Linked DNA regions of Homo sapiens. The protein of the gene in region 2 interacts with the protein of the main gene of each other region in a pairwise test. Each region holds a gene or a part of one and is shown on either strand. Other genes may lie near its edges. The genes, in order: OSTF1, ERRFI1, EFEMP1 and ZPBP.

Region 1 (8,918 bases), on a different chromosome or scaffold from region 2:
TGGCTAGGATGTTCTGTCTTGTATTTCTGCTAGAGATATCCAGGCCACTCCAATACTTTAAGAGAACCCACAGGAAAATCTGTCTCAGATCTCAATGCCATTAAAATAACTACTTTTCAGAGTAAGTGACACATTTTAATTTTATGAGCACTATGAATCTTGAGATTTTTCTCTCTGCTTGCAGCTGAGAGCCAAATCTACAGTGACCTTACTACACATGCAGGTCTGTCTGTAAGCTAGCTTTTCCTCTTGTTTCATCTTACTATTCTTCCCTTCCTCTAGATGACCATGCTTTATCTTTACTTTTTCCTCTCTCTCAGATCATGTGTATTTTTAGAAGTCCTTTTGGAATGAGGCAAGGTTTAAACAAACCAAAAAATTAAATACAACCCCAAAGCCCCCAATCCCATGCTGTCTTTGGAGATTTTTATCCATGCAGCTTGCCTGCAGGACAAGAAAGTAAAGCTCCACACCACTCTCCTTGCTGTCAACCAGGGGCTGACCTTTATGTGCATTTGTGACAAGAAAGTCTGTAGACCAGAGGCCCCTCCCTTTCGACTTCCTGACCACCAGCTCTAAAATACACATTTGACCGCCAGTGTGAATGGAGCACTATGACTTAAGGCAGAATAGCAAATGGTTAAGAGTGCAGACTTTGGCCAGGCACAGTGATCCCACACTTTGGGAAGCGAAGGAGGGTGGATCACAAGGTCAGGAGTTCAAGACCAGCCTGGATCCTGTCTCTACTAAAAATACAAAAAAAAAATTAGCCGGGCATGGTGGCGGGCTGCCTGTAATCCCAGCTGCTCGGGAGGCTGAGGCAGAGAATTGCTTGATCCCGAGAGGCGGAGGTTGCAGTGAGCCGAGATCGCGCCACTGCACTCCAGCCTGGGCAACAGAGCGAGAGTCTGTCTCAAAAAAAAAAAAAAAAAAAAAAGTGCAGACTTCAAAGCCAGACTACCTGGGTTTTAATACTGCCTGCTACATCCCCCACTCTAACTGTTGACTTTAGACAAGTTAAATAACATTTCTGCGCATCTTTATTTCCCCATCTGTGCAACAGGAACAATATAATGGTACTGATCTCATAAGATTGTTGAGAGCAGCAAATGTGTTAACACGTGTAAAGTGACTATACCATTGCCTAACACACAGTAAATGTGGGACAGTACTACGATAGGACATTTCTGTTTTTGTTTTTTGTACTCTGTTGAGACGGGGTCTTGCTATGTTGCCCAGGCTAGTCTCAAACTCCTAGCCTCAAGCAATCCTCCCACCTCAGCCTCATAAAGTGCTAGGATTACAGGCATGGCCCACTGCTCCTGGCCATCGCTTTTTTTTTTTCTTCAACTAAGCTAGCCCACACAAAGTTTCAACTCTGATTGGCAGTAATGTTTCTCACTGTAAATTACTAAACTGGCAAACCCATTTCTATGGTAACTTTGTGTCTGGATCTCATTTGTAAATTAATGTTGATTCAAAATTCCCTTTATCCTGAATCAAGGACCAGATAAAACAAATTAAAATAAAATAAAATGCAAAGTTCCCTCTAAACACCTGTCATGTTTAACCATAAGCTTTCTGATGTGAAGGAGAAAGGAGGTTCCTGGGAATGTATCCACAATTAGTAACAGGATGACCCTTAAACCCCCAAGTGTGAATGAACCCACATGTATACATTACTGTGTACACACACACACACACACACACACACACACACACACCTGTCAATGTCCCTCCATTTGCAATATAGACAGCATTTAATACGCATGAAGAGATTTTTAAAAAGGGCATTCTTTAACGTATTTCAACTGGCAGCAGGTGATCAGAAAAAAATAAGATAAATAAAATATTGTTTAGCTATCAAAGAACAACTCTGCACTGTTAGATACTTAAGGTCCTGATTTGCACCTGAGTTTAGAAAGCTACCTCATACATATGCACTTAAAATGGAAATTTCTCATCAGATTCCACATCTAATGCAATGCAGAACCCAACTCTAGCTGTGCCCCATCTTTGCCCAGGGCAGAGCCAGTCTCAGCAACTTCCTTCACACTCAGCCCACCAAGATGTCAGTCCTCAGTGAAGCACTATTCCACATACGTACGTACATGATTATCAAATAAAGGGACTTCATACTCCAACTGCAGGAACGCAAAGAAACAAAACTAGATAAGTATGAAAGCTATAGAGTTTAGGAAAATCAAGGAAAAAAGTAATCACTGAAACTCATCTCTTGCAAAGAAAGTTACTTCAAAATTTGACGTAAATGGATTAAATTTCAGCATTTCGCTATACCGAAATTACACTATGGGAAGAAAAAACCCAAGAATACATCGGAGCCATTTATCTTCCATTTCCTGTATTTCCCTTAATTACCTACCCAAATGAATGCACGTAAGAGTTGTTAAAGTATTGAAATACGTCAGTCCTTTCTAATTACCTACCCAAATGAATGAGCGGAACAGTATGTTACAACTTTTAATTAAAATACGTCAGTTTCTTTTACAATTATCTTATTTCTGCATATCACAGAAAATATTCTAAGAACAGAGCAAAAATGAACAAGGACAATCCGCCCAGAAAACTGCTTTGAGGAATTTAGTAATCTCAGCCCTCTCAGGTTTAGCACGCCAACGTCTTTGGGAGAGCAAAGGCAAAGGAGATGATAAAATGACACTTCCAAATAGCAACAGCTGAGATCACTGCCGCATCCTAGATTCTTTCCACCAGGAGCGCGAGTATAGGGTTTTTTTCTAAACGCTCTTCCCAAGATCCCGAGGTCAATTTCAAACGCTGCTCCACGCTTAAGTCCCGAGGGAGGCTCGCTCGCCCACCCCACCCTGCAGGGATTGCACTTCCCGTTCGCTCTGGCCGGTCAGGAACCCTAACTTGACAGTGACAAACACTGAGAAAAGAGGAAGTGGCTAAAGATCATTTCATGACATTTTTTAAAGGGAGATCAATGGCCCTGTCTTTCCGGAAAACTTCCATGGGACGTTGCCATCACACCCTCTGAAAGTTTCAGCGAATGACAACGTAGCAAAAGTGAGGGCTACTCCCCTTTAAATATATATATATATATTAATCCTCGAAATCCTCTTGCTATCAAAATCGATCCCTCCTCCGTAACAGCGAACGCAAAACTAAGAGCGCCCATCCCGGTGGGGCCGATCTCGGAAGCCAGGCTCGGGGCCGGGTGCGCGCCGGGTCCTCCCTGCCAAGCTGCAGAGGAGGCGCCGGCACCGCGGCGGTCGCAGGACCTGGCAAGCGCCTACCTTACCTCCCTCACCTGGTTTGACTGGTTTGGGTGGCGGCTTCGACATCTCGCTTCCTGGAGCTGCAAATCCTAAAGACCCCGCCGAAAAGCCCACCGCTTGCCCGCCACCTGGCACTCCGGGCACCCCAGTTCTTTTTGTCTGGCTTACAACCGTGCGCCTCCTAGGACCGGCGCCCACCCTTGGCTGCGGGAAGAGCGGACGCAGGCAGAGCGGCTCCGCCGAGTGCTCCGCCCCGCCCCGCGGCCGCCGGAGCAGTCCAGAGCGCGCGCCGGGCCGACGAGGAAGTGGACCCCGCCTAGCCGAGCGCTAATTGGCTCCCGGGCTGGCAGCTTCGCCGCAGCAGGAGCGCGGGCGGCGCGCACGGCGGCGGAACCAGCCGGAGCCGAGCGAGGGCGAAGCGGGCGTGCGCCAGTGCAGTGCCGCGGGCCGCGCGCGCTCCCGATAGGGAAGGGCCGGAGCTGCGCAGGGGCGCGCGGAAGAGGCCAAGCTAGCCGGAGCCCCGCCCCGCCCCGCCCCGCCCCAACGGGGGCTGGAACCCGGCGCCGAGAGTAGAGAAAAGGGGCCTCTGGTGACCGCCCCTACCTGGCATCCCTCTAACCCAGGAGGAGCGTGGGGAAAGGGGCTGTGGGCCTCTCGGGGAGCGAGCTGCGGGTAGCGGCGCACTGGGTACAGGCGCGCGCTTGGCTGTCGCCTCTGCCGCTGTGTTTGGGAGGACTCGAACTGGCGCCAGGTGAGTGCGTACCTGCTCGCCCCTGCCGCGCCGCGCCGCCTTGCTGGGGCCTGGAGGTGTTTCCAGAGGGTTTCTGTGCTGGAGCCCGGGACTTGGTTGCGCCCTGAAAGCCTTGCCTGGACTCTTGCCACCCTCACAGAGCTGATAGGTGGCCTGCCGAGGAGGACGTGTACTCATGGTGGCGTGGTGCTCTAGCGCCCCGGAATAATCCTGAAAATGGGAACGCTGCCTCCAAGAGACCGCGCAGCCTGGAGAAGTCGCCAGGGACAGGATCAGGACTTGATCCTCGCGGATCGATATGGTCTCATTCCTCTAGCGTTGGGGTGATGACCTACTGCCCGCCTGCTGCCTGTTACTGTAAGGCCTGCTAAGAATTTTTTTTTTTTTTACTTTTTTTAATGACTGAAAAGAAATAAAAAGAAATATAATACTTTGTGACACGTGAAAATTACATGAAATTACGATTTCAGTGTCCGTAAAATTTTACTGGAACACGGTCACGCTCATTTGCATCTGTGTTTTCTGTGGCCGCTTTCGCATTACCCAGCAGGGTTGAGTAGCAGCTGGCAAAGCCCAAAGCATTTCCTGTCTGGCACTTTACAGAAAAAGTTTTCCTACCCCTGATCTATCGGATTGAATCTTCGGTGGGAGGAAAGAACTGGAGCACACAAGGAAGCCAATGGCATAAGTTCAAAATAACAGTCAATATTGTAAATTAATTGTATATTTGGGGAAAGAAAAAACTGTTTACCTAAGAACCTACATAAATGAAACCAATGGGGGAGGGGCATGAATTGCGTTTTCAAAAACCCCAGCCCTTCACGTCTGTAATCCCAGCACTTTGGGAGGGCAAGGCGGGTGGATCACGAGGTCAAGAGATCAAGACCATCTTGGCCAACCTGGTGAAACCCGATCTCTACTAAAACTGCAAAAAATTAGCCGGGCGTGGTGGCAGACGCCTGTAGTCCCAGCTACTCGGGAGGCTGGGGCAGGAGAATCACTTGAACCCAGAAGGCGGAGGTTGCAGTAAGCCGAGATTGCGCCACTGCACTCCAGCCTGGCAACAGAGCGAGACTCTGTCTTAAAAAAAAAAAAAAAACCCAGCCTTGAGGGATTTGTTTACCAAAAGGGAGCAAAGTTTAAACAATAGTAGGAAAAGACTGCCCTATCTCCTGGAAGAAGAGAATCAAAATAGCTGTTGGATAGAATACAGAGTAAGAAGTCCTGGAAACATTTTTCTCTTTTTAAAATATCAGACTGTCCTGTAGATACATTTGAAGAGCACATTTAGCTTTGTCAGCTGTCTTTCAGATCATTTGCGTTAGAGAGCTGCGTTAGAGAGTTCGTACAATCTGCTGATTCTGCACATGCCACTTCTGACCATTCTGCAGTTTAGAATCCAAAAGGCAAGTGTTTAGTAGTGAAATGAATTAAGCATAATAAACACACCTGAATTATTTTAAAAAACCCAACATTTTACTTAGGGTTAAAAAAAAGTGTAAAAAATAAAATTAGTCATTTCAGGTTTGCTCTTGGCTATCCTAGTTTGTTCTCCTGCTATGCAAAAGCTCTCCGCTGTTGAGGAAAGCCTTGCACGCACTGGGAAAATAAACTACACAGATATTCCATGAGATTGAAGGTGGTGTGGATTCTAGTGATAGACGTGCCCTGAAATGATGACTCTTTGGACACATCACATGATTTACAGTTTGTACGAAGCTTGCATTTGCTTCATGAAGCCTGGCAACTCAATTGCGAGCTTTTTAAATTTGATTTTTTGTTTTGTTTTTGGTTTTATGGGAGGCAGTTTTTGGGTTGTTTTTTGCCTGTTTGTTTTGGTTTTTTTCAAGATAGGGTCTCGCTGTGTCACCAAGGCTGCAATGCAGTGGCACAGTCATGGCTCACTGCAGCCTTGGTGATTTTTTTTATAGGGGCAACAGGCAATGAAATAGTAGAATGTGATGTGGAGGTGGACAGTGCCAGGCCTGAACTTGGAGCTCCCCTAAAGCTGCCCTGTGCATCCACACTGTTTTTGAAATAAATGCCTTCAGGGATTGCTAGGCCCACCCCCCACCCCGCCCTAGTCACTTAGCCCAGTTGCCTCTCTTGTCTCTGCATGTTCCAGTTACCCACCCTTCCCATCACATTGTCACTTGCTCATAGCTGATAGGGTATGCCCAGCATTTACCCAAACACTGGCTTGGACAGGCCCAGACTGCTAACTAATGTAGAACTGGGAGTTCCTGTTTTGGTTAAAAAAAAAAAAAAAAAAAAAAAAAAACTTACATTTGACTGTATCTGAGAGATTTTATAAGTAGGTTTTTTATGCCATCTTACTCCTGGTTCCTGAATGCAAGTAACCCCCTCAAGCCTATTTCCCATGCCACAACCATGCTCACTTGTTATTTACATGCCATGTAATTGATGCAATGGTCACACGTGTAACCACAGATGTGGCAGTTTAGGACGGGGACCAGTAGTCCTTTCCATTCTGTGTGCACAGCAAATAGATGCCCCATCAATAATACATCAGTAAGAATGACATCAATTATACATCAGAGCCTGACAATTAAGCTAGCACATACCTAACACCCTTTCTTTGCTGTTAGTAATAAAGTGCTTTTTAGCAGCTTGGAGTGATAGAAAGAAGTCAGCTCAATTGGTTTAGTTTAATATCTGGCTTTTCCACTTACTGTCTGTGTGACCTTAGGCAAATTGCTCTATTGTCTGAGCCAGTTTCCACTTATGCAAAATGAAGGGGTAGACCAAGTAATCGCTAAAGCTATACTTCTCCAAGTTTGAGAATTTATGCTTCAGCGAGCTATCCAAAAATAATGGGGGCAAGGAATGACAAGGTTTTATGAATTTTTATTTTATTTGGTAAAGTGAGGATATCACTCTACTAACATCTTCTGACAACATAGTTTTGTAAGAGAAAGAACATTTATCACCACAAAAGTGAGATAAAGAGCAGCCTCTCCCTTCCCAAAAAAAGGCTAATTGGCAGCATTGAACCGACATACCAAAAAAATAAGAATAGGGTAAAATAAAATTCAAAAGCAGAAAAATTACAACATAAAAATGTATTTTACAATATTCATTGTATGCAGTCATTCCCTCGATACATCTTGTAAATTTGGATGGAGATGTGTATTCAACAACATAACTCTGGATGAAACTTAAATATGCAACTTGTCTGCTATTTTATTTTATTTTTTAAGACAGGGCCTCACTCTGCCACCCAGGCTGGAGTGCAGCGGCTCAATCTCCACTCACTGCTACCCCCACCTTGTAGGCTCAAGCAATCCTCCCACCTCAGCCTCCGAAGTAGCTGGGACTACAGGAGCATGCCACCATGCCTGGATAATCTTTTGTATTTTTGGTAGAGGTAGCGTTTTGCCATGTTGCCCAGGCTGGTCTCAACCTCCTGAGCTCAAGCAATCCGCCTGCCTTGGCCTCCCAAAGTGCTGGGATTATAGGCATGAGCCACAGTGCCCTGCTGCTATTTTATCACAGTCATTATTGATTCTTGTCTCACATAGACTTGTTAATGGAAGTGGACCCCAGTCTTAAGCAATTGTACTCAATGTGGGATATTTAGATAAGCCAAGAAGTCAGACAACAATAGCCCTCTTCCCACCAGGCTTTTTTCTGCATAACCCCTCCCCAGGGAGAGTGTGGACACAGATCATAGAAACTGGAGCATTGCTGGGAGCCTCCAGCTTGGCAGGCAGCCGCTTGCCCCTGGCTACACGGCCTAGGTCCCTGGCAACCCCCCTGAGCAGATAGGAAGGAAGAAGAGTGGCCTTCAGGGATGACCTTCAGGAGCCACTATTCTAAGATTCCCTCCAGCTGTGCTTCACCTTTTCACTTAGTGAGAAAAATGGCCCATTGTAATAACCAAGGACTACTTTAGTGAACGTTAGGGAGGCATGTATGAAACTGCCCTCCATCCCCTAAACCAAAAATCCACAAAACAGTGGCCGGTGGCTTAACTTGGCCCTCTGCCTGAACATTTGCAGTTTCATGTAGAAAGCACAACAGAAATCCAATTAAGAGAAATGATAGCCCAATAAAAGGGAATTTCATTCTTGTCATTAGTAGACCTGTTAAAAAAATTATGATTATATGTTGAATTTCATCAAAAAAAATTGTGAAAATGTTTTTTCTCTTGTTATATAAGTCCATACATAACAACCTAGATTTTGCCTCTTGGCCCACATAGTGTCAAATATTTACTGTCTGGCCTGTTTCCAAAAAAAATGTACCTAGCCAGGCCCAAGACCTAGGCTTTTGGGTGAAGAAATAGTGTCTTTAAACGGCATTAGCTTCATTTTGCCTCTGGCCAGCAGTAACTTTCTTCTTGTCTCATAAGGGCAGTATCTTTAAACGGCATTAGCTTCTTTTTGCCTCTGGTCAGCAGTGACTTTTTCCTTGTCTCATGAGGGGAGAAAGAGGCCAGCCCACAGGGGTCCCTCCCTCACTGATAATGAGTCATACCCAGGCGACTGAATCGTGAAGGTGGAAGGCAACCTGGCTAAGGAGAGGATGAAACTTCATATACCACGCTGTGGCCTAGCAGTTCTTCCACGCCCAGAAAACAGACGTTCAAGGGGGAGTGCTCCGGCAGGTCACCTGACGTTGAACTGTTTGACAGTCCTGAGCACACCCCAGTGGTTGGCACTCAGTGGTAGCAGGGGAAGCCAGTGCGGCGGGAATGTGGATAATGCGGGGCTGGGCTGAAAGGTCACTGTCATCCTCCCCTCTCAGCTGGTGCTCCTAATTTAGGATTCTTTTATCTCCCTAGACATCTAAATGAAATGCATTTGATTTGTTTGTTTGTTTTTTTACTTTTAGGAAATATTAGGAAGCTGTGATTTTCAAAGCTAATTATGAAAACATTTATC
Region 2 (6,019 bases):
TGAACCTGTAGAACATTACTTATCACTGTGTTCCTTTCTAATGGGAAAATAATAATAAACACTTGCAGAGTATTTTTTAAAAGTTTTTAGCTTTAAAAAAAAAAACCCTGTGCCTTACACAATGTGTATATTGAGTTGATACTGATTATGATAATTAGATGGTATTATACAATCATTCATTCAGCAAACATTCACTTACTGAGCACCTACTAATGTTCCAGGTACTGATTGTTAAAAGGTGATTGAGACACAGCCTCTGTCCTGAGCTTAGTCTAGTAGGAGGTGACAGATTTGTAAATAATAGATTTGAAGTTGCTGAGCAAAAAAAAAAACAAAAAAAAAAACCTGTGTACCTCTCCCCCACAGCAAATGTGTCACATTTGCACAGTGCCCAGCCTTTGCACAGTGCCCAGCACTCAGCTGTGCAGATATTATTTGCACTGATCCCTTACTAATATTTAGTGAGAGAATGAGATCGTGTTAAAGAGTGTATATGTACGTGCCCCCAAAAGGGGTCAGTGTTACACAATAGTTGACAAATAATATCCTGGTGCCTAAGGAAAAAAACCTAAACTTATAAATAAACTTGGCTATCTGAAGACAGCAGAGATTGATGCTGACTAACACATAACGAATAATAAAAAAGGAAAGTGAAAAGGGGGCTATAGGGACTCCAGACCTGTAACATCTGACAAAGGGGATTGGCGGTCCTGAAGTTGAGGAACTACTAATTTAAGAAAAATGTACTTATTTTGTTATCCATGCCTTGCAGCTAAGCAAGATATGAGTTACTGGGTGTTTCACAAAGGAGGATGTAAAGAATGTACCTTTAACTTGTCTTTAAAAGGGAGGGAGGAAGCTGTCCCAGGCTTTTACTGAAGCCAGTAATCTTGCAGAACTTGATTTTTACAGGATAATGGAAATTAGTATCTTCATATATTACTGTTTGTTCCTTGAACAAGTAGTAACTGGAGAATTTGTCTCCCCATGGCCAACCCTGAAATACAAAATCCAGATAAATGCTAGACCCTGGGGTAGTCAGGTGCCAATACTGTAGAAACTCTTGCTTAGTTTCAGCATTGTGTTTTAGTGAGTATTAGTTCTACAGCATAAAATACAGTGGCTTCTGAAATTACTTTTTTAGCTTGGGAAAAATAAGCAGGATCCACTGGTGCTTCATGCCCAGTGCAGCCGTAACTTAGAAGGCTGGTTTAATAAGTCAGGGGAGGGTCTGTGTGCATTGCCAAGTGAGTGTGATTTGTTGTGCAACTCTCAGGCTGTGCAGTAGGAGGTCTGCTTTTGCTGGCAATAGATTATTTCTCATTTCACTAAAACATTTCATGTCTTTTGGATTAGCATTTACACAAAAAATCATTTTTAGTGTTTACATATAAGTACCCTCACGAGCTGTGAGAATTAAGTGAAAGTCTACAACTAATTTTTTCTATTCAGCATCCCCCAAATCCTCTGTTAGCTTTGCTGTAATTTAGACTGTCCTAATGGAGGTATTTCTGAATTGTTTTCTTTATTCTCTCATCTCTTCTACCTCCCAGGGAATGAAAGCTACTGGTTGATTTTAAAGTGCCTGGGCCTCACAGGTTTGGAGATGTCCCAGAATAAGGCACAATGTCAATAGCAGGAGTTGCTGCTCAGGAGATCAGAGTCCCATTAAAAACTGGATTTCTACATAATGGCCGAGCCATGGGGAATATGAGGAAGACCTACTGGAGCAGTCGCAGTGAGTTTAAAAAGTAAGTAGAGGATGTAATGCTGCTGTAATCTGGATAAATATGTGACACTAAAATGGGAGAGGCTGTGATTGCTCTTCGCTTATGACCAAAGTAGCTTCCTCTCCTTTCAGCAACTTTTTAAATATTGACCCGATAACCATGGCCTACAGTCTGAACTCTTCTGCTCAGGAGCGCCTAATACCACTTGGTATGTATTCTGAAAATCTGATCACAGTAAGCATTTGAGAAGAACAGTCTGGATTCGGGTTAGCTTGTCCTCCAGCATTATTTTTTAAATGAGGAAACCTGAACTATTTCCAACAACAGCCTGACCCCTAGTGGCAACAGATTCAGAAGATAACTGTGTTTTTCTCAAGCTATTGTACTCGACTGCCTTCATTCTGAGTCACTGATTGCTAAGTAGGACTGTTCATGGACGTGGGATCTTCTAAAATCAAGAATTAGTTCTCATTCCAGCTCTGATGCATACTTTACTTCATGAAACCTTAGGCGAGATTTCCCACCTTTCTTACTAGTATCGAATGCATGTTTGACAGTAATAGATGAAAATAGTATAAATGTTCCTCAAAACTTAAAAAATAGTATTTTTAATGTGAATATTCTGTTCCTTGGATCTTTGTCAAGAGCTGTGTGTGAACTGAACACATTGCAGGCAAGTCCATTCACTCACAATATTATGATGTGCCAGCAATAAGGACTTTGTCTTATCTCATTGGTACCCTACGTGCCTAGTATGGTCGCATGTCTTAAATGGCAAGGCTGGTACAGTATGGTATTCATGTAAATTATATGCTATTCATCTTCCGCGAATTTTACACACGTCACAAAACTTGCCTGTGATGTGTGGGTGTGCGCTGTGCACATGTCCAAGGGAGATAGAGGAGATAGTTTGTTCTTTGAACCACACCATGTGCGTTAAGAATCTTCTGCTCTCTAATTACACCTGTGGTGGTTGCATGGGTGTTCTCGGGGTGACAGCAGTCAAGTGTTTCACTCAGGAAGAAAGCTGTGGAAGCATAGGTAGCTGGGGTGCTCTCTCCCTCACACAGGTGGAGAGAGGATTGTTGATCTTTTATTAATATCTCTCGTTCATTCCAGGGCATGCTTCCAAATCTGCTCCGATGAATGGCCACTGCTTTGCAGAAAATGGTCCATCTCAAAAGTCCAGCTTGCCCCCTCTTCTTATTCCCCCAAGTGAAAACTTGGGACCACATGAAGAGGATCAAGTTGTATGTGGTTTTAAGAAACTCACAGTGAATGGGGTTTGTGCTTCCACCCCTCCACTGACACCCATAAAAAACTCCCCTTCCCTTTTCCCCTGTGCCCCTCTTTGTGAACGGGGTTCTAGGCCTCTTCCACCGTTGCCAATCTCTGAAGCCCTCTCTCTGGATGACACAGACTGTGAGGTGGAATTCCTAACTAGCTCAGATACAGACTTCCTTTTAGAAGACTCTACACTTTCTGATTTCAAATATGATGTTCCTGGCAGGCGAAGCTTCCGTGGGTGTGGACAAATCAACTATGCATATTTTGATACCCCAGCTGTTTCTGCAGCAGATCTCAGCTATGTGTCTGACCAAAATGGAGGTGTCCCAGATCCAAATCCTCCTCCACCTCAGACCCACCGAAGATTAAGAAGGTCTCATTCGGGACCAGCTGGCTCCTTTAACAAGCCAGCCATAAGGATATCCAACTGTTGTATACACAGAGCTTCTCCTAACTCCGATGAAGACAAACCTGAGGTTCCCCCCAGAGTTCCCATACCTCCTAGACCAGTAAAGCCAGATTATAGAAGATGGTCAGCAGAAGTTACTTCGAGCACCTATAGTGATGAAGACAGGCCTCCCAAAGTACCGCCAAGAGAACCTTTGTCACCGAGTAACTCGCGCACACCGAGTCCCAAAAGCCTTCCGTCTTACCTCAATGGGGTCATGCCCCCGACACAGAGCTTTGCCCCTGATCCCAAGTATGTCAGCAGCAAAGCACTGCAAAGACAGAACAGCGAAGGATCTGCCAGTAAGGTTCCTTGCATTCTGCCCATTATTGAAAATGGGAAGAAGGTTAGTTCAACACATTATTACCTACTACCTGAACGACCACCATACCTGGACAAATATGAAAAATTTTTTAGGGAAGCAGAAGAAACAAATGGAGGCGCCCAAATCCAGCCATTACCTGCTGACTGCGGTATATCTTCAGCCACAGAAAAGCCAGACTCAAAAACAAAAATGGATCTGGGTGGCCACGTGAAGCGTAAACATTTATCCTATGTGGTTTCTCCTTAGACCTTGGGGTCATGGTTCAGCAGAGGTTACATAGGAGCAAATGGTTCTCAATTTTCCAGTTTGATTGAAGTGCAGAGAAAAATCCCTTAGATTGCAAAATAAAATAGTTGAACTCTCTGTCTTCATGTGGAAGGTTTAGAGCAGTTGTGAGATGCTGTTATGCTGAGAAACCCTGACTTTGTTAGTGTTGGAAAAAAGTCTTACAAGTCTATAATTTAAAGATGTGATGGTGGGGAGGGGAGGATGGGGAAGCTTTTTATATATGCATACATTACATACCTATATATAAACTTGTGGTATAACCATAGACCATAGCTGCAGGTTAACCAATTAGTTACTATCGTAGAGTAATATATATTCAGAATAATAAACTCAAGCTGGAGAAATGAGTCCTGATAGACTGAAAATTGAGCAAATGGAAGAAGATACAGTATTGTTTAGATCAGAATCATTAAAAAATATTTTTGTTTAGTAAGTTTGAAGATTTCTGGCTTTTAGGCCTTTTCTATTTTGTTCCATTTATTTTTGCAGGCAATCTTTTCCATGGAGGGCAGGGTATCCATTCTTTACCATGGGTGTACCTGCTTAGGTTAAAAATCATACCAAGGCCTCATACTTCCAGGTTTCATGTTGCGTCTTGTTGAGGGAGGGAGAGCAGGTTACTTGGCAACCATATTGTCACCTGTACCTGTCACACATCTTGAAAAATAAAACGATAATAGAACTAGTGACTAATTTTCCCTTACAGTTCCTGCTTGGTCCCACCCACTGAAGTAGCTCATCGTAGTGCGGGCCGTATTAGAGGCAGTGGGGTACGTTAGACTCAGATGGAAAAGTATTCTAGGTGCCAGTGTTAGGATGTCAGTTTTACAAAATAATGAAGCAATTAGCTATGTGATTGAGAGTTATTGTTTGGGGATGTGTGTTGTGGTTTTGCTTTTTTTTTTTAGACTGTATTAATAAACATACAACACAAGCTGGCCTTGTGTTGCTGGTTCCTATTCAGTATTTCCTGGGGATTGTTTGCTTTTTAAGTAAAACACTTCTGACCCATAGCTCAGTATGTCTGAATTCCAGAGGTCACATCAGCATCTTTCTGCTTTGAAAACTCTCACAGCTGTGGCTGCTTCACTTAGATGCAGTGAGACACATAGTTGGTGTTCCGATTTTCACATCCTTCCATGTATTTATCTTGAAGAGATAAGCACAGAAGAGAAGGTGCTCACTAACAGAGGTACATTACTGCAATGTTCTCTTAACAGTTAAACAAGCTGTTTACAGTTTAAACTGCTGAATATTATTTGAGCTATTTAAAGCTTATTATATTTTAGTATGAACTAAATGAAGGTTAAAACATGCTTAAGAAAAATGCACTGATTTCTGCATTATGTGTACAGTATTGGACAAAGGATTTTATTCATTTTGTTGCATTATTTTGAATATTGTCTTTTCATTTTAATAAAGTTATAATACTTATTTATGATACCATTAGTAATGTTTCTTGCCTAAAGTCTTATAAAGTGTATGAAGCAATTTGACAGCATTATTTTTAAGCACAAGCGAAGATTCTTTGAAGTTTAATGTATTCTTGAAACTCTTATTCTTTAGAATGAAACATAATTTGTGCAATCTTTTTCACATATTATGAAAGTATACAGTGGAAATGAGCTGTTTGTTTTTACCTTTAACAACTGAAAGAGAACTGGATTCTGGGGTTACTATCAGAAACAACGTTGGGGGTGGGAGTCCACATCAAGGAGAACGTGACAGAAGAAACCAGTTCTGATGTGTAGACTTGGTTTGACTCATTCTGATTTTTAGGACGAGGTCCCGGTTACTCTGGGCCCTTTGGCAGGCTTTGCTTCTTGCTTAAGGCCACCCAAGGAATCTGCACCTGCCTTGGCCTGTCATGGAGATGGCAAGTCCACAGTGGACAAATGGGCTCCTGGCAGCCTTTGGATGGAGGCAGGGGCTGGAGTGCTC
Region 3 (7,252 bases), on a different chromosome or scaffold from region 2:
GGGTAGGACTAGGCTTTGGGATAAAAGGGCAAACATCTTGTCTGCAGTTAATGGCTTCCGCAGGCCCAGAAAATATATATATATATATATATTTGGAGGTAGAAATTGAGGGCCAGGGCTTAGCATAAACATTTCAGAGATTCCTGTTTCTTCTACAATTCCCTGGGGAGCCATAGACAAGACCGGTTTTCTTGTTTAAGAGGGAAAAATGTGTTGGAAGAAGGTCTTAGGCTTTTTTTCTTTAACTGTTGCTATTCCCAGCTCTCACTTGAGAGCTGTTTTTGTATGTAGGAAAATCACTAGATTGATTAAAAATGGAAACATTTAGATCAAGCTGTAATTTATCTTGACTGTAAGCAACCATGTAGACAGGGTAAGAGGAATGAACTCAACAGTCTTGCTGTGTTGTGGCTGGTTGTTGACTCTGCTTCTGTGCTGTCCCTTGGTCAGATCTGTTCTCTCTCCACTGTTTCTGTGCCCCTTTAACCTTTAAGAGCCCATCCCCTACTCTCACAGAAGGAGTTTGTGTTTTGTTCCTTGGGCTTTTGCTGAACTTTCTTTTTGGCAATTTCTGCACATGAGTCAACTCTTTGAGAGGTATTTGTTTTAGCAGCAAGATTACCTGGTGACAGAGGTTATGCATATATGCTGTGAAACTAGACTTAAGAAAAAGTTGGCTGTTTTGTGGCATGATTTTAACTGTATTTTTGCTTCCTCATCTCCCAGTTTATTTATTAAAAAAAAAACCTAATGGTAGTTCTTGTGCTGGCACCTATAACTGATGTTTATCCCAGATATAAAAATTATATTGGGGGCTACTGACTACACTGAAAAACCTCCAAAGATAGAGTGATCTTCTAAAGGAATATTTATTTTTATTTAAAAATATGATACATCAAAGTAAAGCAGTGACATTTTAAACAAGGAGACGTATAAAATATTCCATAGAATTGGGTAGGAGGGTAATTTGCTTAAGTTCACTGTCACTCTGGATGCCAGGAATAAAAACCATCATCATTTTCTTCCTCTGTGAGCATCAAGTACGAAGATGAGAAATTTTAGTTATAAATTAGTGAAGTGTTAGGATTTAAATTTTACTTAGAAATTAAAACTTCTCCAGTGAAATACCTTTTATCCATTTTGTTCTGCATCTTGTGGAAGTCCTGAATTCAGGGATGTTATTATATTTTCCGAGTTTGCTTCTTCAGGTCAGTTCCAATGTGGTTTAGAAGGAATTTATTTTCTCATATCCTCCCCATAGATTTCTCAATAGTATAATTTTCTAGGGGATATCTGGTTCATTTTGGGAATTCTGGAAAATTTTGCTTACTGTTTTTTACAAAATATTCACAATCTAAAATTTCTGACAAAATTAAAAATACCCTACAGAAACCAGCATATTGTACAGCAATGATTTATTACTATATAATAAACAACCACCTTTAGGCTGGATATGAAAATAAAAACCAACACAAATATGGCAGATCCCCATTTTCTAAAGAAATATATCTTTATTGACCTTTTCCATTTTCTTACAAAGCAGTTAAAAACTCATTCTTACCCTTGCATGCTATTCAATGGTTATGATGGCTGCCTCCTTATGAGACTGTTAGTGGAGCTCTAGTAAGTTTCCTTAAGCACCACAGAAGATCATCATTGCTTGGTCCCACTTTTATAGGAAAGAATCCAAGTTTCACCAGATAGTGTATACTTAGCTCTCTTGAAGAAGACCAGTTTAGTGGATTAATGTCTAATTTACATATAGTAATAAAGACAAACTTTGAATCTTTACATATTAAATGCCCACTTTATACCATGGTGTAATTGTTTGAATTATGGGTGAGTGTACAGTATAGAGATGTAGATGCACTAGATATATCTATAAATAAAATAGTGCTTTAAGGTAACAATATTCTTTGGCTGACTTAAATGCCTGTGGTTGACTCTTAGAAAAGACTAAAATGAAAATGGCCCCACTATTATTGTCAATCTTAACACAGAGCTTGTGCGGAAGGTCCCTATACTGCTGACTGTCAGCATCTCCAGGTCCACGATATGTTCTCTTGGTCCTGATAATGACTTCACGAGCACAAGCATTGCACTTACAGGACTTGTTTGCTAAAATAAAAGAAAATAGAGAAAGGAAGAGAATAATTTTCTTGGATTGGAGTTTCTATGCTTTGTTAGTATACCTCCTATAAGAATTAGGGGGAGAATTTTGAAGGTGGTATAAAAGAGCCACTACTTGGTCCCTTCTTGGTTTCAACTCTTCTTGGCTCTTATCCCTTGTCTAATACAGTCATTAGCTCCAAGTTTCAAGGACTTGCTTTTTTTTTTTTTTAAATAGTTCTTTGTTTTTGATTCCTCCCTCTCTGTTAACATTTTTCTTCACTTTTATTGAGTAGTTGTGGACTTTACAGAGACTAGAGCTTAAGTGAGAATCTGATAATTTCTAAACTTGTAAACAAAGTTGTCACTTTTCATTTTCTCAACATTGTGCATCTGTTTACATTCTAGTAAGTAAAGAGAAATGGAAACAGTTTTTCAACAGAATATGGTAAATGCTAAGATATATGAGGTTATGCAGGGTACGTATGAAGATACATAAAGGTGTATGTATAAAGGGAAGAAAAGGAAGAGCCCTGAAGCACTGAGGGAAAGCTTTTGAATGCCTGATGAGAGTCACCAGGCATAAATGAAAGTTTTGTAAAGTAATATGTTCAGAAGAACTGGGTGCAGTTTCATTTTGATGAATAATATGATGGGCTCTTGTGAGTGGAGGGAGATGAGGTTGGAGAGGCAGGTAAGTGGATGTGTGAGTTTGAATGCCAAGGGATAGAGTCATGGATTAGTATTTAGCAGTCACCTCAATGGGTGGACATTAAACCAAGGGAGAGAATGCTTTGGTTAGGGCTACTTGTTATATACTCATGAGCAGCTTGCAACCCTCTGCTGCAGCAGTCAACATCTTTCTGATCACTTGTTCAATGTCTTGACTACAAGCTCCACGGGGGCAGGAACTGGCTTGGCTTTATTCATTGTTGTGTCTCCAGGATCTTCCACGGTGCATACCTCTTGTAAACAATAGTTGTAGGTAATAATAACACCTTGAAGGTGTTGATTGAATTAATTTATTCATTTAAATTTTATTTTAGCATCTGCTATGTGCCAGGTACCATTCTATGTGCTGAGGATAGAATACTGAACCGACAGGTGTAGTCTCTGCTCTCATTATGCTCATATTCTAGTGGATGACACAGTTCAGTGAATACTAGACTAGGTAGTGATAGGGCTATGAAGAATAATAGTAAGGCTCAGTAAGGGAGCAGAGACACTGGGGCAGTGTGGGGGATGTTGGATATTCAACCTTCAATTTCATGTACTTTCTTTACAATACGTTCTCTTTTCCAGGGAAGATGGTTTTCTCAGTATTTTCTCAAAAGGAATATAAATAAAATTTTATATTCCACATATCCTTTCAAGAATCAGGCTGACTCATGACTATCAAGAAACCTTCTTTGACAGCCCACATTGATTTTTTGATGTATCTGGACCATGGAATTAAGCACAAAATTGCCCCACTTCTATTTTCATAGATGTTAACTTTTTCTACACAATAATATTTAAAGCTCCTTGAAATCAGAAAATGTGCATTACATGTCCTTTTAATTCCTCATGACACCTAGCATAGAGCTGAGCATGTAGTAGGTGCTTAATTAACCGAATTAATTAACCTAACTAACCTGCTGTTGATTTTCATGCGTTTCAATGCCCTCTGCACAAGTAGAATTTTAGTGGAGAAACTCTGTAGGATTTGATCCAAGTACTTTTTGAATTATGTGATAAGAAATAGTCTTGAAATGTCTATTTTTATTATTTTAAATAATTTTCTTTCAAATAATTTAACATTAACTCTGGAAATATCAAAATTGGCAATGTTTTCTATCAGTCATGAGAATAAGGATTTCACTGGAGAAAAACACTGTATTTTGATTTGAAAATATGAAGTCGGTAAGTGCACTGATATGAATAATAAATAACTGTAAAAGTGCCATGTTTAATTGCAAAGAAAAAACATGTTGGAACTTTGTTTCACTCTTTGATTATTCTGCTAGAAAATTTTATTTTCTTACATTATGGCTAAAAGTTCAAAATAGAAAATTATTTTTAAAGATTTTGTTATTTAAAAATAATGTTATTTGTTTAGGCTAGAATTAGTTAATTGGTAGTATCTGAATTGTGTAAAATTCATTCAGTGGAAATTTCTTACAAATATCAAGAATATGTCAAATTTAAAATATCAAATGTTAAAGAACTATAATATATTCTTTTTTATTCAAAAAAATAATTGTAATAGATTGCATTTTGCATTGGGTCTTTCTTTTCAGAAGTTGGTCATGAGAAATTAATCATTTTCTAATATACTGGCAAAGAAATAATATCACATAACTCTGGAGCTATATGGGAAATTAATATATCAAAAAACAGGATAAATGGGTAAACATTAAAAATCTGTAAACTGTACCACAAGGATGAATTTCCCAATTTAATTCATATTCTCAAAATGAAATATTGGCTTTAAAATTTGATTAAAAATAAAGAGTGCCCAAAGGAGTTTTGAGAAAATTGTAACTGGATGAATAACATCATTAGCATGAAACAGTTACCGTAACTCTGCAAACTGCTTGGTAGGGTGCCATCATTTTCACATGAAGTGGTGAGCCGTATTTAAAATATGTCCAAATTTTAACCTAAAATGAACTTGCTGAGATTTTGTAGGGAGACTGGAAGGCTGAGGCTTTGGGGTCAGGGAGACCAGCTCAGAAGCCACTGAAGGGATCATGGAAGTGACGGGAGCCAGTTTATAGGAAGAGAGATAGGGATGTGAGGAAGCAAAGATAACCCAGGAGACAGTGTGAAGAGGGAAATGGCAGAATTCAGAAAGTAGATTTCACACAGGCAATGAAAGATAGGGAGATGACTCCATACTGCCAGCCCAGAAGTTGGCAAGAATGGTACAACTACTGACACATACTGTGCGGGGAGGTGGGGTCACTTCTCACATACTTATAGGTTTTAGTTTCGGTGTGAACACAAACTGTCTTGTGAATGTAACAATGATGAATTCATGATGTCTGAAAAACTCTTTAGGAGCTCCAGGAATTATTTTGGGTTTGAATTATATGTATGTCTATGTATAATTAATTAACCATCAATGATTAGTGATACCTACTTGGGGGGTATGTTGGGTGGGGGCAGAGGCGGGGGGATGGGAGGCTTGTATTTTCGTGGTCACACACAACTCTATCAGAGTCTGCCAAACTTAATATTTGAGTGATTTCAGGGATGCTACTTAATCTTTCTGCATCTCACTTTTCTCCTCTGTAAAAAATGGAGATGAATATTAATATCTATCTGGCAGTGTTACCAAGAGGAATAAATGAAATAATGTAGCTGGAAGGCCTTACACAATGCCTACACATAAGACACTTTAAATGTTTGCTTTCCTTCCACATGTGGATACCACACAACAACAACAACAACAACAACAACAACAAACTCCCATCTTTCTCAATAGTTAAGGCTGCCTTCAGGATACTTACTCGTAGGTAGAACTCTCCATTTTCATTTCCAGATTTAATCCGAAAAGTATTGATGGTGTTGGCATAAATAGTTGTGGCCTGTATCTGGAAGATGTCTGATGGCACAGACCTATCAGATCGGATGCTCATGTATTTGTAGACTATTGACTGGGGCAGTTCTCGGCACATGGCATTTGAGACTGGGCAAACACATCGGCTGCAGAGACAAACAAAAGTATTCAGCAGTTTGGCTTGGTAAGACCAGAAAATCCTCACTTTCAAAAGTTCTGATTTTTCTTACTTCTCTGGTGTTAGAATGTAGGGATCTTGACAAGGATTTCGTGGATAACAACGGAAGCCGCCATGATAATTCCAACACATTTCATCCTCCCGGCATTCATTTGTGGTCTCACACTCATTTATATCTGTAGAGATGTAGGGTCAAAGAGTTTACTAACTAAACTAATGAACTGATCTAATTAAATCATATAACTGGCAGATTCTGTTTGCAAGGAAGGAGGTGTGAGAGCATCTGGACTGTGTTCAACCTGCTTTTAGACACAAGACTGGGTGTTCATTGTATTGAATTCAGGACAGACAGAGCTGAGACATTCTAGGCAGATTAATATGTGTCATTTCATGATATTTTATCAAGCACCTATTGTTCATCTGTTGAATTCAAACCCCAATGTTAACCACTGACTCTGCCTATATAAAAGTTAAACACCAGTTCTTGTCATCAGGGACATTATAATTGAGGGAATGTGTATATGATTACTTAGAAAGTAAAATGGAATTAAGTAAGAGATAGATAAGTATACTGGGGCATGTGGAGCAGAGTTGGGTAATTTTGCCAGGGGGATTAGGGAAGGCTGAAGGAAGGAAGAGGCATCTCAACGTGGCCTTGAAGGGTGGTGGTTAGATGGAGTTTTCATGGCTGGGGCAGGGAAGGCTTTCCAAGCTGAGAAATCAGGAAGCATAAACTATGGAGGGCAGCTTATCATCTCTTTCAGGAACTTGGGAGAAAGGTAAAGGCTAGAAATCTGGTTTCAGTAAGCTGAAGCATGCTGGGAGTGGATTATACTGTCCAGAGGAAGCACAGCACAGGAAGTGAAACTATGAAGTGTTCCACCTCATAGAGCATAGCAATTTTAGGACTGTAAGGAAAAAGAGGAAGTTAAGGAAGAGGCTGTCAGTGCAGGGAGACAACCCAGGAAAAGGCAATGCCAAAGAAGTCAGAGGGAGAGAGAATCCTGGGAAGAAGGGTTGTGTTTACCTCAGGCTGGACAAAGATTGACTTTAAATTTGGGAATCAGAAGCCTCCAGATGACATCTGAGAGAACAGTTTTACTAGAGAGCCATTACATTTATAACAACAACAACAACAACAATAAAAATAAAATTAATATCTACATCTCTATGTCTGTCTCCCTTTACATTTGAATAGTGATTTATATTTTATTCAATGTAAACTTTTTCTGAATCATTCCTTCTCCACAATGAGATATTTTTATTCATGAATTTACTCATTCCATAAGTAATTTACTGAATCCTTGCTGTAAGCCAAGCATGGGCTAGGTGCTGGGATATGATCTCTTTTGAATTCTCATACCCGGTGTTCTTTTTTAAGGGCCTTTATTGCTTTCTGCTTTGCATTATTGCAATCTGCA
Region 4 (7,815 bases), on a different chromosome or scaffold from region 2:
AATTCATTTGATTCTTACAAATGTATAAAAGAAGTAAGATTATTCCTAATTTATGTATGAAGAAACTGAAAATTTTGGACTTCTTACAATCTGACATTTATTCTTTATTTTAGGTATTTTTACATAAAATGGCCCTTACTTATTATCTTACGAAGTTTCACTCTTAGGTGAGTTTTTTTTTTTTTTTAACATAAAATGACCCTTACTTATTATCTTATGAAGTTTTACTCTTAGGTGAGTTTTACAAGTAAGGATACACAGGCATAAAGAGAATAGTAACTAGCCCTGGGTCGTACAGCAACTGAGTTTTTGCCAGAGCTCAAGGCCAGACAGTCTGAGTCTAAAGCCTGTTCTCTAAACTCCTCTGTTTCACTGATTCAGGCAGTGAAATACATGGGACAGATGAGCTCTATACTTGGTTCTGACTTGGTGGTACAAAGTCTGTTAACACCATTTTAGCCCTATGTTAGCTTTGCTAAGCCATTTCTTCAACCTATAATTTCTTAGAATAATGTTTAAAAGTATTCTTCCTATAGCATTTGGCCCTTTCCTTTTCCGATGCTAAAAATGTTGATCTTTTTACATTCCTGCCTGCCAGACAGCTTTTATACAGAAAATAGTACCTGTGGCTTTCCTTTGGAGGTGTTTCTCATCATTTAGAGGAACTCCATTTACAGGAGTTCTTACAGAGAAACCACATGGTGCAGATGTCAGTAAGAGGTCATCAAACCTGCCTCCATGGCTGTGGAGCTATTTATGCAGAGTTTGCTTCATTTCAGCTTCTGTTCTTATTGGAGCCAAAAAATGTACGTTCAAGTACTTAAATTTTTCCCATTTTATTTCAATCCTTAAAACTAACTCTTTCATAATATCAGTGAATTCATTCTTTCAAAGGAGAGAGACAGATAAGGAGGATTTCTATACAATTATCAAAGTGATACATAAATTCCCCTGTGGTAAAACAAGCTTATCCATATATCTAGAATAAATAATGTTATATACTTTGTGTTAATCACTAATGAATGTTCTTTTCTTAAAGAATAAATTTTCTTTTACAAATAAGTTTATAAGGTTTATCATTCCTTTGTTTCTTATAATCTGTAATTTAAAAATAAAACCTTTTTCAGATCATTGTAATTTTGTTAATTTAACTGCCTAAATATTGAATCTTATGTCCATACTCTCTTCCCTTGAGCATTTAAAAAATAGAAAGTTCATGTCACTTCATTTACCTCCAAGTCTTGCTCTGATAGAAATGTCTGGTACTTCCCTGGAATTCCATCTCCTGTTCTGTTGCAGTTCTTCTGATAGAATTTTTTGCCTTTTTATTGTTGTTTGAAATCCTGTGTCTGGTCTGGGAACTCGATGTTGAGGTTTCACATCACTAAAATCCACTAGGGTTGGTATGGTTCTGCCAATGCCAGGATTTAAATCAGCATCACCACCAGGACTCATAAACCCTGAACAGGAATCACCTAAGGTCACATCATCCCGAAGTGGAAATAATGGATAATGTGGCCCATATGGTGGGGGATAAGGATCATGTAAATGATAGTCTGGCAAAACTGAAGGGGGATAAGGGTGAAATTTAAGAAAAGCAGGGTTGCATTTCTTTTCAAACCTGCCATAGTTATGTCTGTTCTCAAGACCTTTCACAAAAGGCATGTTCATTTTTCTTAAGAGATCACAATAGTGTGGGTAATCTATATTCTCAACAGTTCCTGAAAGGATGGACCTTTTAGAGATACTTATCTTTCCAGGTGTGTCCTGAATTTCTACATCCATGGCCTTTTTCTTTAGAATTTTTGATAACTATAAAGTATTTCTGATAATTCCTTTATATTTAACTATATAAACTCTATTGCCAATAACTAAAGATCTGTGTTAAACTAGTATAAAATTGACACAGCTTTCTAAATGTTGGCAGATAATTTTGTTTTTCTTTTTAAGGCAAATATTTTCCTCCACCAAAGGAAGAATAGGGCAATGAAGGAACATGACATAAGGAGAATAAAGCAGAGCCCTTGTTGCCTGGCAACGGCTAGAATTCTTAACACATTGAACCATTTATTATGTACATCACAATTCTTAAGAAAAACAAAAATAGCCTTGGTACTAATATTTCCATGATACTTTTCTCCCCAGTGCTCAGGAAAGCTGTGTTCATTTACTTATTTTAAAATTTTTCCATAAGTTGGTATTTTATGGGTATAAAATATATTTAAGGAGTGTAAATAAAGCAGTTAATTCAGTGACAATACATTTCTCAAAAGTATATATGTGACTACAATTAAGTATTTATATATATAACACTTGCTATCTAATTAAATGTAAATCTAAATGCACTACAAAATATAAACATTACTAAAGTTAAATTGGTACATCTAATTTTTTTTTTTTGGTGGAGTCTCACTCTGTCGCCTAGGCTGGAGTGCAGTGGTGTGATCTTGGCTCACTGCAAGCTCCGCCTCCCAGGTTCACGCCATTCTCCTGCCTCAGCCTCCCAAGCAGCTGGGACTGCAGGCGCCCGCCACCATGCCCGGCTAATTTTTTGTATTTTTAGTAGAGATGGGGTTTCACTGTGTTAGCCAGGATGGTCTCGATCTCCTGACCTTGTGATCTGCCCGCCTCGGCCTCCCAAAGTGCTGGGATTACAGGTGTGAGCCACTGTGCCCAGCCCTAGTATATCTAATTTTTAAGAAAAACAGAAAATTATAATGAAAGTACAGGTACATCTTTACATGCCCTAAATTATCTTTACTTCCCTTAAATTTGCCATGGTGTCCAGAGTAAGAACAGTAAGAGTTTTAAGTTCATTTTAGGAAACCACAATGGGTATCAGTTAACTGTCTACACACAAAATATCATTTAAATCACTAATGTATTGGTTCACTTAAAAGCTCTTTCACCTGGATAATTTCATCTTGCATGAACTACTATAAGAGGAAATGCAAATATTAGAATTTGGGGTAAAAGTTCACATCATCCTTACTGCAGCAAAAATGTTAAAACAGGCAAGATTCTAGCTTTGAAGAGTCAGGCACATAATCGTTAATCAGGCCAACTGTCAAGGGTGATATGTTTGGTACAATCAGAATGCCTATGCCCCATTGAAAGTCTTTACAATTTTGAGATATACTATTAAACAAGTGAGATTAAATTAGGTGGTTAGGCTGTCAGTTTTAAATCCTTCATCCAGATCATAGCATATCAAGTGACAGTTTTTAGTCCACCCATGATCACTCATTTCTTCATATCAAAAGTGATAACTCACTTGTAATTAGGCATTCTACATTTAGTTGCTCAAACTTCATTCTTCAATGTATTTAAACCAACTGCTTAAGATTTATTTCTATCACAGCTCTGCTCCCATTAAGTAAATCCTTCCAGCAGCAGAAAAGTAGAGGCATGAGTCTCTTTCAATTTCTCTAAAACAAGTTCTAGCTATAAATGGCCTCTTAGGCTGTGTATGGGAAAATAATAACCCCCATAACTTTGTACTTAGAATGGATCCTTTACAAGAGACAGATTAACAAGAGAAAAACAGATGTTTATTAATATATTTCATTTATATATGAGGAACACCCAGAGAATGAGTAGTTCTCAAAGAAGCGTCTTTGAATTCCAGCTTGTATAGCATCTTCAACAAAGACTAGGAAATTTTTAGAGATGTGACAAAGGAAAAGGACTCTGAGTCTCTACAGGCAGTAACTTGGGCTAAGCAAACAAATAGCAGACAAAAGATGGTTTAAAAAAAGCTAATATTAATTCCTCTGATATCATTTCAAGGCTAATGAGGGTCTGACGCTGTCTTCAGTGGTTAACCTTTGTTCTCCCTGGTAAAGGAGTGGGGCAGGATACCTTTTCTCTTTCTAATCTATGTCTTGCTTCTGGGTAAAAAGAGGGCAGGTGGACAGCTCTCCTGCATCTGCTGGTTCTTGTCTTCAGGGCAGCAATCCTTCATATTTGAGAAGGTATATTCTGGTCTCCCACACAGGATAGATGGTTTTGTATGTTTTGCTGAATTTAGGTGACACTATAAGATGATCTTCCGGTCTATTTTAGAAAGTAAATTTCATCTATGGTTATTTCCTCTGTCCTTCCATCAAGCTTCTTTCTGAGGCTAAAGGCCTTACTTACCTTTAATTCCCACTAAGTGTGTATTGCATTTATCTCCCAATTAAGTTCCACACATCCATAAAATACTATCTGCTGACATTACTAGATCAAAGCAGTCCACTGAGGGCTTTACACGTCTTAACTCATGCATTCTCACTATCTGTTGTTCGAAACTGGGCCCCACATCTACCACCTGGCTCATAAAAAGGGCTTTTCGATCATAAACGCTATGCAAAGGTAAAAGCACGGGATTTGGGGCCCAACGATTCTCTCTCAGCTCTAGGATCTTGGACAAATCACTGATGTTCTTGAGGATGCCCTGCGTGGCTGTGTTGTCCTGAAGGCCCGGGGGCTGCACAGCACAGTTGGCGCGTGTAGGCCCCACCAGCTATGTGGAGACACAGGCTGACCCCTAGTCTACCACCCCGGCGGAAGTGGGAGCACGTCCATCAGGTCCGTTGTTCCGGTCCTCCGCCCGCCAACTTCCGGCTGCAGGTGGGCGCGCGTTGCCTAACGACCTTCCGCGCGGACGGTGGGCAGGCGACGGCGGCGTGTGGATGGAGGCCTTCGCCCTTGGCCCAGCGCGGCGGGGCAGGCGGCGGACCCGGGCCGCCGGCTCCCTGCTCTCTCGGGCCGCCATCCTCCTCTTTATCTCCGCCTTCCTGGTGCGGGTGCCCTCATCAGGTGAGGGTCCGCGCCGCCCTGCCGGCTCCGCAGGGACAACCGCAGCTTCCCCCACTCTTCGAATTGCCTTTTCTTGTGTCACGTGCATCCGTTTTATATAGAGACACCTTGCTCACTAATACGTGACAAGAAAGGCTTATTTTTTATGGAAGTCGTACAAAGTCACTCTGCATTTGCATAGAGGAGTGAATGACAGGAAATTAAGGTATAGATGGATCACTACGTCACCCACAGTTGAAGTTTTACAATTAAATTGCTTTGTTGATAAACTCCCCAATTCAGTCCATGGGTCATCTGCCAGGTTTGCATTTCAGTGTGTGAACTCTGTAATGATGAGATCAGTGTCTTTCAAATAGGCAACCTGCTGCTTTCAAATTATCCGTGATGGTGGAGCGCCATCTATTGGTTTTAGCTGTGAAATACAGGAAATAATGCGATTTTAAAGTTTTGACCTCTAAAGAATTGAAGTACTTTTCTATACTGTTTTAAAAATACATGTAAGATACTGATGAACAAACACTGACGAAGGATGTGAAAGTTTAATTGAACTGTTATTTAACTAGAAAGGTTTTGGCTGCATTCTAGACTCAAAATTCTAGACCCAAAATTGATAAAATCACAGAGATTTGCTTCAAATGAAAAAAGTTGTTCAAATAAGGAATAATGAAAAAAAGAAGTCCTCCAAGAATATAAATGTAAAAGGTTTGTGGAGGTAGGTAGGGGATAGGGGAGGAGAAAGGAAACAAATGGAGTGAATAGAGATTTAAAAATCAAAGTCCAGGCATCAGGAATCCAAAGATTATTCTTCTATAAGTATATGAATAGCCGATAGCCATCAATTGCCATGTAGGAGAAAGATGCTTCTTGGATATGGGTCGTGGTCGTGTATTAGGTGTGAAAGGGTTTTTATTTTAAATTTTTACCTGGTGATCTTTTGATGAAATAATAAGATTAGACCTATGAGATATAAGAAATAGAATAAGCAGTTAGTATCTTGTAAGTGATGAATAGTGAAGGCCTCTTATATAGCATTTTACAATTTATACAGTATTCTCATTTTCTACAGTAACTGTAAGGATGGAATTATTATTAGTCCCATTTTACATATAAGAAAACTGAAGCTCCTAGAGTTTAAAGTGATTTTCCTAAAACCAGTAAGTGGCAGAATTAGGATTTAAACTCAAGTCCTCTGGCTTTGATACCACATCCTTTTCTTTGCACTTTGCTATTCCTGTCTGCTAAAGGCTATTTGGGTATAATGCTTTATTGCATTTTTATACTGCCCCTCACACTATTATGCCCATCACATTTGCTCATTTAACAATGAAGACTATCAGAATATGTTTCACAATTATTATTTAATATTTACAATGTGCAAGGTATAGTGTTTGATACTGATTCTTGATAAGTTAACATAAACATTGATCCCACTATCAATGGAGCTTATAATCTAATAAGGAAAATGGTATGTGTGTATCAAGAACTATAGTATAAGCCGATGTCTACAAGGGTTTTTCTGATATTATCTTCTAGAATTTTTATAGTTTCAGGTCCTAGATTTAAGTCCTTAATTCATCTTGAGTTGATTTTTATGTAAGGTGAGAGATGAGGATCCAGTTTCATTCTTCTGCATGTGGCTTTCCAATTATCCCAGCACCATTTAGGCAAAGATTTCATGTCCAAGAACCCAAAAGCAAATGCAACAAAAACAAGGACAAATATGTCGGACTTAATTAAACTAAAGAGCTTTTGCACAGCAAACGGAACAGTCAGCAGAGTAAACAGACAACCCACAGAATGGGAGAAAACCTTCACAATATATACATCTGGCAAAGGACTAATATCTGGAATCTATATCTAGAATCTACAAGGAACTCAAACAAATTAGCATGAAAAAAAACCCCAACAGTCCCATCAAAAAGTGGGCTAAGGACATGAATAGGCAGTTCTCAAAAGAAGATATACAAATGGCCAACAAACATATGAAAAAATGCTCAACATCACTAGTTATCAGAGAAATGCAAATCAAAACCACAATGTGATATCACCTTACTCTCGCAAGAATGGCCATAATCAAAAAATAAAAAAAAAAATAGATGTTGGTGTGGATGCAGTGAAAAGGGAACACTTCTACACTGCTGGTGGGAATGTAAACTAGTACAACCACTATGGAAAATTGTGGAGATTCCCTAAAGAACTGAAAGTAGAACTACCACTGGATCCAGCAGTCCAACTACTGGTGTCTACCCGGAGGAAAATAAGTCATTATATGAAAAAGGTACTTGCACACACACGTTGATAGCAGCACAATTCACAGTTGCAAAAACATGGAACCAGCCCAAATGCCCATCAGTCAATGAGTGGATAAAGAAACTGTGGTGTATGGTATATGTGTATATATATATGTGTGTGTGTGTGTGCATGTGTGTGTGTATATATATACACATATATACACATATATACGCATATATACGCATATATATACACAAATATATACACATATATATGCATATATATGCACACATATATACACACATATATATACACATATATACACATATATATACACTCATATACACACACACACACACAAACATAAATATATATATGGAATACTACTCAACTATAAAAAGGAATGGATTAATGGCACTTGCAGCAACCTGGATGGGATTGGAGACTATTATTCTAAGTGAAGTAACTCAGGAATGCAAAACCAAACATTATATGTTCTCATTTATAAGTGGGAGCTAAGCTATGAGGATGCAAAGGCATGAGAATGATACAATGGTCTTTGGGGACTCGGGGGTGGGAGAAACGGTGGGATGGGGGTGAGGGATAAAAGACTACAAATTGGGTTTAGTGTTTATTATGTGATGGGTATACCAAAATCTCAAAAATCCTTACTAAAGAATTTATGTAACCGAATACCACCTGTTCCTCCAAAACTTAAGGAAATTAAAAACAAAGAACTATAGTACAATGTAGAATGAGTGTTATTAAAAAGGTGCTGGT

The links.
Region 1: the proteins of ERRFI1 (region 2) and OSTF1 interact in a two-hybrid assay, tested with the Homo sapiens proteins (one study listed by BioGRID).
Region 3: the proteins of ERRFI1 (region 2) and EFEMP1 interact in a two-hybrid assay, tested with the Homo sapiens proteins (one study listed by BioGRID).
Region 4: the proteins of ERRFI1 (region 2) and ZPBP interact in a two-hybrid assay, tested with the Homo sapiens proteins (one study listed by BioGRID).

The regions. Positions count from the first base shown.
Region 1 is NC_000009.12:75,083,101-75,092,018, reverse strand, and holds the start of OSTF1 (osteoclast-stimulating factor 1), read right to left. Parts: upstream 3,506-8,918; 5' UTR 3,327-3,505; coding exon 3,293-3,326; coding exon of another isoform or gene 3,284-3,292; intron 1-3,283.
Region 2 is NC_000001.11:8,011,227-8,017,245, reverse strand, and holds the end of ERRFI1 (ERBB receptor feedback inhibitor 1), read left to right. Parts: exon of another isoform or gene 1-1,553; 5' UTR 1,554-1,626; coding exon 1,627-1,751; intron 1,752-1,845; exon of another isoform or gene 1,846-1,861; coding exon 1,862-1,938; intron 1,939-2,849; coding exon 2,850-4,036; 3' UTR 4,037-5,519; downstream 5,520-6,019.
Region 3 is NC_000002.12:55,865,117-55,872,368, forward strand, and holds the end of EFEMP1 (EGF-containing fibulin-like extracellular matrix protein 1 precursor), read right to left. Parts: intron 6,008-7,252; coding exon 5,884-6,007; intron 5,800-5,883; coding exon 5,604-5,799; intron 2,119-5,603; coding exon 1,957-2,118; 3' UTR 851-1,956; downstream 1-850. UniProt on the Homo sapiens protein: Binds EGFR, the EGF receptor, inducing EGFR autophosphorylation and the activation of downstream signaling pathways. May play a role in cell adhesion and migration. May function as a negative regulator of chondrocyte differentiation.
Region 4 is NC_000007.14:50,090,056-50,097,870, reverse strand, and holds the start of ZPBP (zona pellucida-binding protein 1 isoform 1 precursor), read left to right. Parts: upstream 1-4,624; 5' UTR 4,625-4,676; coding exon 4,677-4,803; intron 4,804-4,849; exon of another isoform or gene 4,850-5,008; intron 5,009-7,815. Other genes in the region: protein SPMIP7, read right to left, coding at 1,233-1,785.